2 separate regions of the Homo sapiens genome follow, and region 1 is linked to region 2. The links come from fine-mapping of genetic effects on gene expression. A gene starts in region 2. The other region holds a variant in brackets. All regions are shown on one strand. Distances are between the middles of the regions. Region 1 has its middle 20 kb from the start of CACNG5. Region 2 holds the start of PRKCA (protein kinase C alpha).

What was found.
Region 1: its variant is fine-mapped to the expression of PRKCA in whole blood (INTERVAL, PIP 0.91).

The regions. Positions count from the first base shown.
Region 1 is chr17:66,812,899-66,818,273 of GRCh38, forward strand. No RefSeq gene overlaps it. Among named protein-coding and RNA genes, the nearest start is that of CACNG5, 20 kb to the right of the region's middle. The variant G/A (reference allele first, on the strand shown) is at 2,625.
Region 2 is chr17:66,299,683-66,305,057 of GRCh38, forward strand. PRKCA (protein kinase C alpha) reads left to right here and starts at 2,931. Exons shown (of 17, transcript NM_002737.3): 1 at 2,931-3,342. The coding sequence starts at 3,170. RefSeq lists an enhancer at 3,725-4,226.

The DNA of each region.
Region 1 (5,375 bases), 510 kb after region 2:
CATGCCCAGCTCTGGGACCAAGGATTCAATGGTTGGGGAGAGTGAGTTCTCTCTCTCTCTGTCTCTGTCTCTCTCTCTCTCTCTCTCTCTCTCTCTGTGTGTGTGTGTGTGTGTGTGTATACGCACACCCTTTCCCATGAGAATAGAAGCTCTAAGAGGAGCCGGCTTGTCCATCCTGTTTGCTGCTACATCCCAGTGCCTAGAGCAGAGCCTGGTAGATAATAGGAGCTCAAAATGTTCATTGAATGACTGAGTCAATTAATCGTTCCCAAAACTGCTCTGAGCCTAGCAACGTGTTCCAGACACCCTTACTGGGCCATGGGATTTGCCCTGGAGGTGTTCACACACTAATGAAGTAGATAAGATATACAAAAAAGAACTAATTAAAGATCATCTCTCAAACTCATGATGAGCTTCAGCCTAGGAAACACCAGTTCTCAACCTCTGTCCTTCAGCCCAGAATCTAGAGGCGATGGCTGCCTATGGTTACACTTGAGTGATTATTTAACTCCCTGAGCTTCCCCCCTGCCCCTGGCTTATTGTGTGCTCTGGGGATGAAATTATGGTTCAGCTAAAATGCTAATGCACACGGGCAAAGGCCAAGGCCATCTATTTTCACACTCTGTCCCCATCCTGGGAGTGCACATCACAGAGAGCAGGGCATTGCCTGCAGGGAGTGGGTGAGAAGTGCTTTTGGCTCTAAGAAAGCAGAACTGGATGTCTCCCCAAGATTCTTTTTTTAACAAAGCTAATTCAATAAATACATTGCAAAGAGGCCTATTCTAGCCATAAGGGGAGAAAGTGGAAAATGGTTCTAGTGAAATGAAAGAGCTAGTGGTGGGCTCAGGGACTCAACAGACAGGTGGAAATGGCACAAACCAAAAGTCTAAAGGGGGCTGTAAATGGGAACGCGCAAACTGTGCACGCACACACACACGAACACACATGCATACAGAGATGCACACACACACATGCACACAGACACGCAAACACACGCATGCACACAGACACATGTGCACACACAGAGGCACACACACTGATTGATTACCAGAAGTGTACCAGGCACTCTTCTAAGTTCTTTATGTGCATTTATTTCAATCCCACAATGACAGCCCCTGCCCCCAGATAGGTGCTGTTTACTGTGCCCATTTTACAGAAGAAGAAAGGGAATTCCAGGGAACTTAAATAACAACACATAGGTGAACAACACCAGACAAATGGAGCCAACCGAAAGAGCAGAGATGTGAGCACGCCAGATGCCTTCCTGGGGGAGGAGGCAGGGAGGCTGAGGTCTGATGGAAAGGCTGGAAAGGAGAGGTCCCAAACAAGCAGACACCAGCACGCAGGGAGGAGGGGAAGGGCTGGCATGCGCGCAGTGCCTAGCTTGTCATCTGAACACACCCATCTCATTTAATCCTCATGACACCTCCATGGGCTGGAGGCCATTGTTCACATCTCACAGATGGAGAAACTGAACCCCAAAGTAATTAACCAGCTTCCAGATACGCAACTCCTAAGCAGCACAGCCAGGCTGGGCACTGAGTCTGATCTTCCTAGCCTTGTCCCATGAGAGGGTCAGATGTAGCATTGGGTAGGGAGCTTCAGGGCCAGACCCTGTTGGGGAACTTCTCCCCCCACTGTGGTTTCATTCAAAGTCCATCCTATTACCAAGGGGGATGTTCCTTGCCCTTAGCTGACTCTGATGCCTATGAGACTAGATGCCCTCCTGGAACTGTTTCCAGAAGGCTTTCTTCCACCATCACCCTCCTTCTCTCGACATTTTTTTTTTTTTTGGAGCTGTCTGGGCGTGGGAGGAGAGAGAAAAATAGCATCACAGTTCTCAGAACACAGCAGGTGCCTCTGCAGCCGCCCTCACCTGACTGACTTGCCTGGAAGGCCCAGGAGGAAGGAGGAAGCGGGCAGGAACGGCTGGTGGGCCCCAGGCTCCCCCTCCCACCACAGGACAGCCCTACATTGAGACCCCAGCTCCACCTACCCCAGGAGTCAAAAACAATCCAAGGCAAGCATCATCCAGTGAGCAGAACAACTTGTGAGAAATCACTGATTTCTTGGGGGCACTGGGCAGCCCGGGGAGGAAAGGTTGGGCTTGGTTAGGTCAGAATACTGTGGGAATGCTTCTGGGTTTTTGGAAAATTTACAAAAAATAACACCTGCTTATTGTAGCTAATACAGATGAGGAAAAGAAAATCCCAACTTCCCAAGATGGTTAAACTTTTTGATTCCTTGCTAACTTTATTTATTATTCATCATCTTGTTATCTTTTCAAGACTGTACCATGGTATTAGCCTGTTTTCACGCTGCTGATAGAGACATACACGAGACTGAGTAATTTACAAAGAAAAAGAGGTTTAATGGACTCACAGTTCCACGTGGCTGGGGGTGGGGTGCTCACAATCATGATAGAAGGCGAAAGGCATGTCTTACATGACGGCAGACAAGAGAGAATGAGAATCAACTGAAAGGGATAACCTTGATAAAACCATCAGATCTCACGAGACTTATTCACTGCCACGAGAATAGTATGGGGGAAACCGCCTCCATGATTCTATTATCTCCCACTGAGTCCCTCCCACAACACATGGGAATTATGGGAGCTACAATTC[G/A]AGATGAGATTTGGGTGGGGACACAGACAAACCATATCAACCTCAAAGCCCTCTTATGAGACTCCACTGGGCCTTGACATTGGTCACTGAAAGCTAGGATCACAGATGTTAACACACACATCCTTTAAACATTTTGTTATGACTTTTTTTTTTTTTGAGGCGGAGTTTCACTTTGTTGCCCAGGCTGGAGTGCAGTGGTGTGATCTTGGCTCACTGCAACCTCCACCCCCCGAGTTCAAGCAATTATCCTGCCTCAACCTCCCGAGTAGCTGCGACTACAGGTTTGCATCATCATGCCCGGCTAATTTTTGTATTTTTAGCAGAGGCGGGTTTTCACTATGTTGGCCAGGCTGGTCTCGAACTCCTGACCTTGTGATCCACCCGCCTCAGCCTCCCAAAGTGCTGGGATTACAGGTGTGAGCCACCGTGCCTGGCCTTTATTGTAACTTAAAAGCCAATAAATGCATGACCATTCAGTAAGGGTGGGGACTTCTCTCTGAGCAGGGAATTTCTTTCTTGCATTAACTATACCCATAATACTTGTCTTACAGTTTCCAGTTAGGGTTTATTCGAAGAGAAGCCAGATATTCACAAAGAAAGCTGAATGCAAAGTCCATTTAGATTGTTGCAATATTTCTTAATCTTTTACAGTTGCCTTGCCCACAACTGTCTCTGTAGCTGTTTTTAAAAACTCGTTATTCTTTTTCTTAAACATTCCATTTTGTGTTCACTGAAACAACTCTATGCTTTGCACTTGTATTTCATTGGTTTATGTGGAATTTGATTAATTACTTAACTACAAAGCAACGTAGCAGACATTCAATGTTTTGGGAATGAAATTGACATTTTCTTACTAATTCCCCTATTGTTGGAATTTTAGGTTTTCCTGGTTTTTAAATTATTTTGAAAACTCATTGTTGAACACCTTTGTTCCCAAAATTTTGAATGCATTTTAGATTATATCTTCCACTGGATTCCTGGAAATACAATAGCTGAACTTTTTTTTTTTTTTTTTTTTTTGAGACGGAGTCTCACTCTGTCGTCCAGGCTGGAGTGCAGTGGTGCGATCCTGGCTCACTGCAAGCTCTGCCATTCTCCTGCCTCAGCCTTCCGAGTAGCTGGGACTACAGGCGCCCGCCACCACGCCCGGCTAACTTTTTATATTTTTAGTAGAGACGGGGTTTCACCGTGTTAGTCAGGATGATCTCGATCTCCTGACCTCGTGATCCACCCACGTCGGCCTCCCAAAGTGCTGGGATTACAGGCGTGAGCCACTGCACCCGGCCAATAGCTGAACATTTTTTAGACTCTTGGTACTTCTTATTTCCTGTTTTTCTTCTTGAACCCTGTTTTCTTTTCTTTTCTTTTTTTTTTAGATGAAGTCTCTCTCTGTCACCCAGGCTGGAGTGCAGTGATGCAGTCTCAGCTCACTGAAGCCTTCGTCTCCTGGGTTTAAACAATCCTTCTGTCCCAGCCTTCCAAGTAGCTGGGACTACAGGCATGCACCACCACGCCTGGCTAATTTTTGTCTTTTTCTGGTAGAGTCAAGATTTCATCATGTTGGCCAGAGGCTGGTCTCAAACTCCTGACTTCAAGTGATCTGCCTGCCTCGGCCTCCCAAAGTGCTGGGATTACAGGCATGAGCCACCACACCTGGCCAAAGCCTTGTTTTCTATGGTGACATTTTCTTGCTCTCAGATCAAGTAGTAACGAGTGTTTCTTTTCAATGTCATGCTGTTCTTAGTTGGTTTGTTATCAAGTGCCTTCATTCGGTCAACAAATATTTATGTGAGCTTTAAACTCTGCACCAGGGGTTCAGTGACTACCAGGGCTCATAGCCAGGAGTGTTTTTGATTTTTGCCTCTTTTTATAGATTTTTAAGTGGCTTTCAAGTAAAAGACTTCAAGTGAATAATGAAATAAGAGTACATCAGGACGAAGGTCAATACAAATATCTTGCCATGATTTGGATATGGTTTGTTTGTCCCCACCGAAACTCATGATGAAATTTGATCTCCATTATGGCAGTGTTGGGAGGTGGGGCCTATGGGAGGTATGTGGGTCATGGGAGTGGATTTCTCATGAATAGGCTAATGTCCTCCCTTAGGGGTGAGTGAGTTCTCACTCTCAAGGGAAAGGATATTCCATGAAGAGTGGGTTGTTAAAAATAGTCTGAGTCTGACTTCGTTGATTTTGCTCTCTTGCGTCCTCTCTTACCAAGTGATCTCTTTGCACATGCCAGCTCCCCTTCCACTTTCAACTCCCCCGCCATGAGTTGAACCAGTCTGAGTCCCTCACCAGATGCATATGCCAAATCTTGAACTTTCTAGACACCAGAATTATAAGCCAAATTGCTTCTTTATAAACTACTCAGTCTCAGGTGTTCTGTTATAGCAACACAAAATGGATAAAGACAGAAAACTGGTACCAAGAGTGGGGTGTTGCTATAAAGATACCTGAAAATGTGGAAGTGGCTTTTGGAACAGGATAATGAGCAGAGGTTAGAAGAGTTTGAAGGAACAGGCATTAAAGAGATTGCATTGCTTGGAGTGGAGCATTAAGGACAATTCTGGTGAGGGCTTAGAAGATAAGCTGGAACTTCTAAGAGACTGGTTAAGTGTTTATGACCAGAATGCCAATAGAAACGTGGACAGTAAAGGCCATGATAATGAGGTGTCAGATGGAAATGATGATGACACCAATGCTTACCACTTAGGCTCTTTGGAGTGGAGGCATGAGTCGAACCTGGGGC
Region 2 (5,375 bases):
TGCTACTCAGGTAGATCCTCACCTCTACCTGTTTAGAGATCTGCCAGTTACAGTGAATCTGACTGCTGCCTGCTTACGCATTTCGGCAGTTGCCTTGCCTCTCCTAAACCTTGAATATGGTGCATAGAATAAAATATAAGCCTTAAGTCATCTTGGTTACCATAAATCTCAGAATGATGCTTTTTCGATACTTATGCAATTCCTATTGCCCAATTTGAAAATGTCCTGGTTCATTTGAAAACAGTCCAGTTAGCTGCATAGAGCAGCAAGCTGTAAATTGTATCTGAAAGACCGCTGGCTTCAAACCATTGGGATTCTGAGTCATCTGTTTGGTGGTCTGACTTTGATCCCAGCCTCCAGCCTCTGGGTCCCCCTGGTCTAGGTGACACCTCTCCAAACAGTGTTGAGCTTACTCCTCAAAGGCAGAGGACAGAAGCGGATTCTGAAAAACTCTGCGTTCAGTCTGACATTCCCTGTTCTTTTCCCGCACCTTCCCCATGAAATAGCAGACTCGAAAATAAAATTTACTCATGCCCTCATGACTGACTGACTACCCCCAACCCAGGGGGTTCTCCCGTCCTTAATCTCCTCCATTTTAGTTATACCATGGGGACTTCAGGTAGGCTGCAGGAGTAGATGCTGGCCCACATTTCCATCAGTCCTTGCTAGGGACAGTGTTACACTGCTTGGTAATTGATAAATCCCCACTCTGGGTGCACAGTCCCCTCTCCCCAACTGAGCTAAGATGTGGGCTATTGATGCTTTCATGCCCAGCCCAACCATGAATCAGTTGACTTCCAGTCAATCATTCCTCCTCGTACCCACCAGGAACAACACTAACAACTGAGGCAAGAATGCAAAGCCACAACCTAAAAGAAAACAGACACATTGTTCCATCTGATCTACTGACAGCTAAGACAGTCACTCCATGGAGTACACAGGAGATTCGCAGGCTGCTGCCAGGGCTCATTCTGTTCTTGTCTTTCCTATGACTTTACTCAGGATTCCATTATCAGCAACTTCACCCTCCAGCTCTCTCCATCCTCCTATGAAAGCCTCAGGGACATAGAAATAAGCTTGTCTTTGTAAAATGTGCCAGGATCTCCGTCTTAGATAAAAGACGACTATGAGAAAAGAAATTATTTCATTCCACTATGTTCCATTTGATTTCTGCTTTCAAGCAATAAACCACCATGGCTTGAGATGCTTCTAGTGTTTCATGGAGAATTGGGACTATTTCCCCAACATGCCCTGCTCTTCATTCCTCTTTGCTTCTTCCCTTTTTGACTCCTTGGACCCGAGGGGCGACCATGAGTGGCGAAATTTCTGACCAGCTAGAATACCAGGCAGGTGCAGGCTCTTGAAGCACCAAGACTGGCTCAAGAGATTGTAAATGGATCAGTCAAGTGCATGCACCACTGACGGCCAGTCAGGAGAGCTTCCATTTGTTAAAAATATAAAGGACATTCCTATCATCAAGCATCACAATTAGGCAATCTCAAAGAAAACAATATTAGCTCTACTTGGCCTATGTTACATGCTCTAAGAAAGTATTTTAGAAAAGTTTTTTTTTTCAACATAAATTTATTGAAGGATCAAACGTGTTCTCTTTCTTGGTCTCTTTAGCTCGTAAAGTCGTTTTGGGGATTTCGTGAATCTGGCAAATAAAACAAAACACCAATGAAACGCTGAGAAATGATTATTTCCCTTATGTATTTTAGCGGCCTCCAGGCAGACCTGATAAATATTCAGCGAGTGATTAGCTGGTGCATCCCCACCTGCGTCCTTTGCATAGCCATGCCCGCTACTCTTTCACAGGCAGTTTTACTTGGTAAGTTACAAACGTACTGGCTGCACTCTGCACCTGACAGTATTGCAGTAATTAGCTTGGGATGCAAAATGATTTCTAAATTAAGGTCCTGGACTTGTAAAATCAAGAAAGCCTGATAATCAACATCGTCGCTCTGGTGGCCATTGAATAACGGGATAAATACCTAAGACAAGTCCTTTAACCATCCCACGTGGTGATAAATGCCCGACGTACAAATTAAAAGTCTCTACCACACGCAGGTGAAATAAGGTATAGGTCAAGAAGAGAAGGTAGGGGAAAGGGTCAATGCTTAATTATTTAAAAATCGCTCTCTTCCTCCTGTAGGAAGGTCTAGGGGCTAGGTCTTTTAGTGCACACGTGATGAAAGTGACATTTTGGCCAGGTGAAACCTCAAGCTGGTACAGGCAGCTAAAACACGGGCGTCGTGCCCTGGAGACACCGGGGGTCCTGAGGATGGGGAAGGGGCTCCCTGCTGCGGGTGCTGAGGGGTTAGGAGGTGAGCACCGGGCGGGAGGCTCCGGGGCAGGGGCTGCGCGTGGAGCCCACTCCCGGACGCGGGCTCCTCTCGGCCCGGCACGGGTGGCGCAGGACTCCGAGCCCGTCGACAAGAGAGAGAGCGGGAGTGGGAGAAGGAAGACCGGGAGAGGAGGAGGCCGGGCGGCAAGAGCGGAAGAAGAGGAGGAGAACTGAGGCGGAGGAGGGCGAGAGGGAGGAGAGCCGGGCGCAGGAAGGGGAGGAAAGAAAAAGGCGGCGGAGGAGCGCGGACCCGCCACTCCCGGCCTCCTCCCCCGCATCCCCACTCGGGCCGGCCCTCCCCCGGCCGCCGCCGCCGCCGCCGCCGCCGCCGCCGCCGCCGCCGCCGCCTCCCCTTGCCCAGTGTTCCCAGCACCGCAAGGCACTCGCTGCCTCCTCCGCACTCGGTCCGGTCCGCTCAGCGCCGCCGCCGCCGCACCCTCGCCGCACCCCCGCGCGCGCCCGGCCCGCGCGCCCCCGCCGCTCGTCCTCGCGGCCTCGCGCTCGGGGCATGCGCGGTGGGCGGTGCCGCTCCGGGCCGCCTCTGCCGCCGCGAGTAGGAAGCGCGAGCGCCGGGCACCGGGCTGTCAGTGAGCCTGGGGCCAGCGGGCGAGCCAGCGGCTCCGGCTCCCGCTCCCGCTCCGCGCAGCACCAGCCCGACTCTCCCCGGCCCCCGCCGCGCCCCCTCGCCGCGACCTCGGCCACCGGCCCGCGCCCCGCGCCCGGGGTCGCCCCGAGCCCGCACCTCTCCCCCGCCGCCCCCGCCCACCCGGCCCTCCGCGGCCGCAGCTCCCCGGCGGAGGCAAGAGGTGGTTGGGGGGGACCATGGCTGACGTTTTCCCGGGCAACGACTCCACGGCGTCTCAGGACGTGGCCAACCGCTTCGCCCGCAAAGGGGCGCTGAGGCAGAAGAACGTGCACGAGGTGAAGGACCACAAATTCATCGCGCGCTTCTTCAAGCAGCCCACCTTCTGCAGCCACTGCACCGACTTCATCTGGTAGGTGCCGGGCCGGGCACTCCTGCCCCGCTCCTCCCCGCCTCCGGGTCCCGGCACCCGGCGCTCCGGCGCGTCCGCCCCGGGGCTGGCTCACTCCGATAACTTGGAACCGGCGGGAGTCCGAACTCTTCGCCCGGAGTGACACGCGCGCCCGGCCCTGACACCGGCGGGCAGGACTCCCGGGACGTCGCCGTCCCGCCACACACACCCCCTGGCGCGAGAGGGAGGCTGGCCCCGTACGGTGGCGAAGGGGATCCCTCTCCGGGCCGGGCCCCTCACCTCCCCGGGCGCGCCCACCCGCACGCACCCAGCGGAGCGGCCGCTTGCCGGGGTGTGAGCCCAGGGGACAGGGGAGGAGGAGAGGCCCTAAGGGGGCAAAGGTTCCCGGAGAAACGCGCCCCGGAGTAACGGGGGAGCGGCGGCGATTGCACTGCGCGCGGTCCAAGTTGCTGGCGAGCCAGGCTGGGCGCGTTCGGGGTGGGGGGGTTGTGTTTGTGCTTCCCATCGGGCTGGACTGCGCTGGCATCTTGGGCCCCTGCCTACTGTAGGCTGCATCTACTGGGCACGGAGAGACTGACTTTTCTGAGTGAGCAGAGAGAGAGAGAGCAAACTGTTGAAAGCTTGCAGTGGGGGAGGGGGAGTTCTAGCAGGCAAATGGCACAAGGGCAGAGGGACTCATTTAAAATAGACCCTGTCGGCCAGGCGCGGTGGCTCACGCCTGTAATCCCAGCACTTTGGGAGGCCGAGGCAGGCGGATCACCTAAGGTCAGTAGTTCGAGACCAGCCTGGCAAACATGGTGAAACCCCGTCTACTAAAAATACAAAATTAGCCGGGCGTGGTGGCACACGCCTGTAATCCCAGCTACTCGGGAGGCTGAGACGGGAGACTCGCTTGAACCCGGGAGGCGGAGGCTGCAGTGAGCCGAGATCGGGCCACTGCACTCCAGCCTGGGTGAGACAGAGCGAGATTCCGTCTCAAAAAAAATGAAACAGACCCTGTCAACTCGAGATTAGACCTGTAACCCTGTTGATGAGGGCAGAGGCCTTATTTAAGAAAAATAATATAAGGGCCAGAGGTCAGAGATCAGGTAATCGCCAATGAATTCAGGCATTCTTAACTCGGAGGGTCCCTGGGGGCTTATGGAGAATCGATACATAGAAGGGCTTCAGGGGTCTCTGAACCCTGTAAAACTGAGGGAAATTGTGTTTGTGAATCTTTTTCCTGGTGAGAGAATTACAGCTTTCATCTGATCCTCAAAAGGTGTGTGACCCTTCTTCCCAGATCCCCGTCACCACACAAAAGTTTTGAAAGCTGGAACTAAAGGAGCTCTAGGTCCTCTAGTTAGAGCAGCAGTAGTTTGGTTTTTCTTTTAAGTTGCCCGACGTCCTGACTCTTCTACCTCTTCTTTGTGGTGTAGGAAGTTCCGGGCAAGACAGAGCTATGGCTAGGGCTTCTTAGCTCCCTCTCCTTCTAGGCCAGGGGGAGCTGCACAGGGTGGCAGTCACGGAGTGAATCCTGCCACCAGCCAGCTGTGTGGCACAGGTATCTTGGGCCACTAGGGTGAGCATAGTATGGATGGCTCTGTCGGAATCCATCACACCTGGGGAAAAACATCCCAAAGGGCAGGTCCCATGATCGTGGTGCGAATAAGGTGTTTAATTTTTCCTTTCCTTTTTAGACATCTGCTCCCAAGTACACTTTTATGAAAAGCACAGCCACCTCTATGAGTGATTTCCACTGTCTAGTCGGCATATGAAGCGACTGTGCTCAAAGGAGTAGGTAGTCGTAGATAAGGCTATTTAAAATAAAAATTTCGGAGCATCAGGGCAAAGAGAATATTGCATTTGGTTAAGAGGAGGTCAGCTGTGAGAGTCCATTAAAAGGGAACAGACTGCTGGTGACTTTTGCAGGAAGTAGGAGAGTTAGAAAGGGACTTGCAGCATACTGAGGCTAGCTATTGTCTTTCCACTATCAGTTGCCCTTGAAGGATCAGCCCCTGGTGAGCTGAAGAGGCGCTCAGGTCACCACCAGT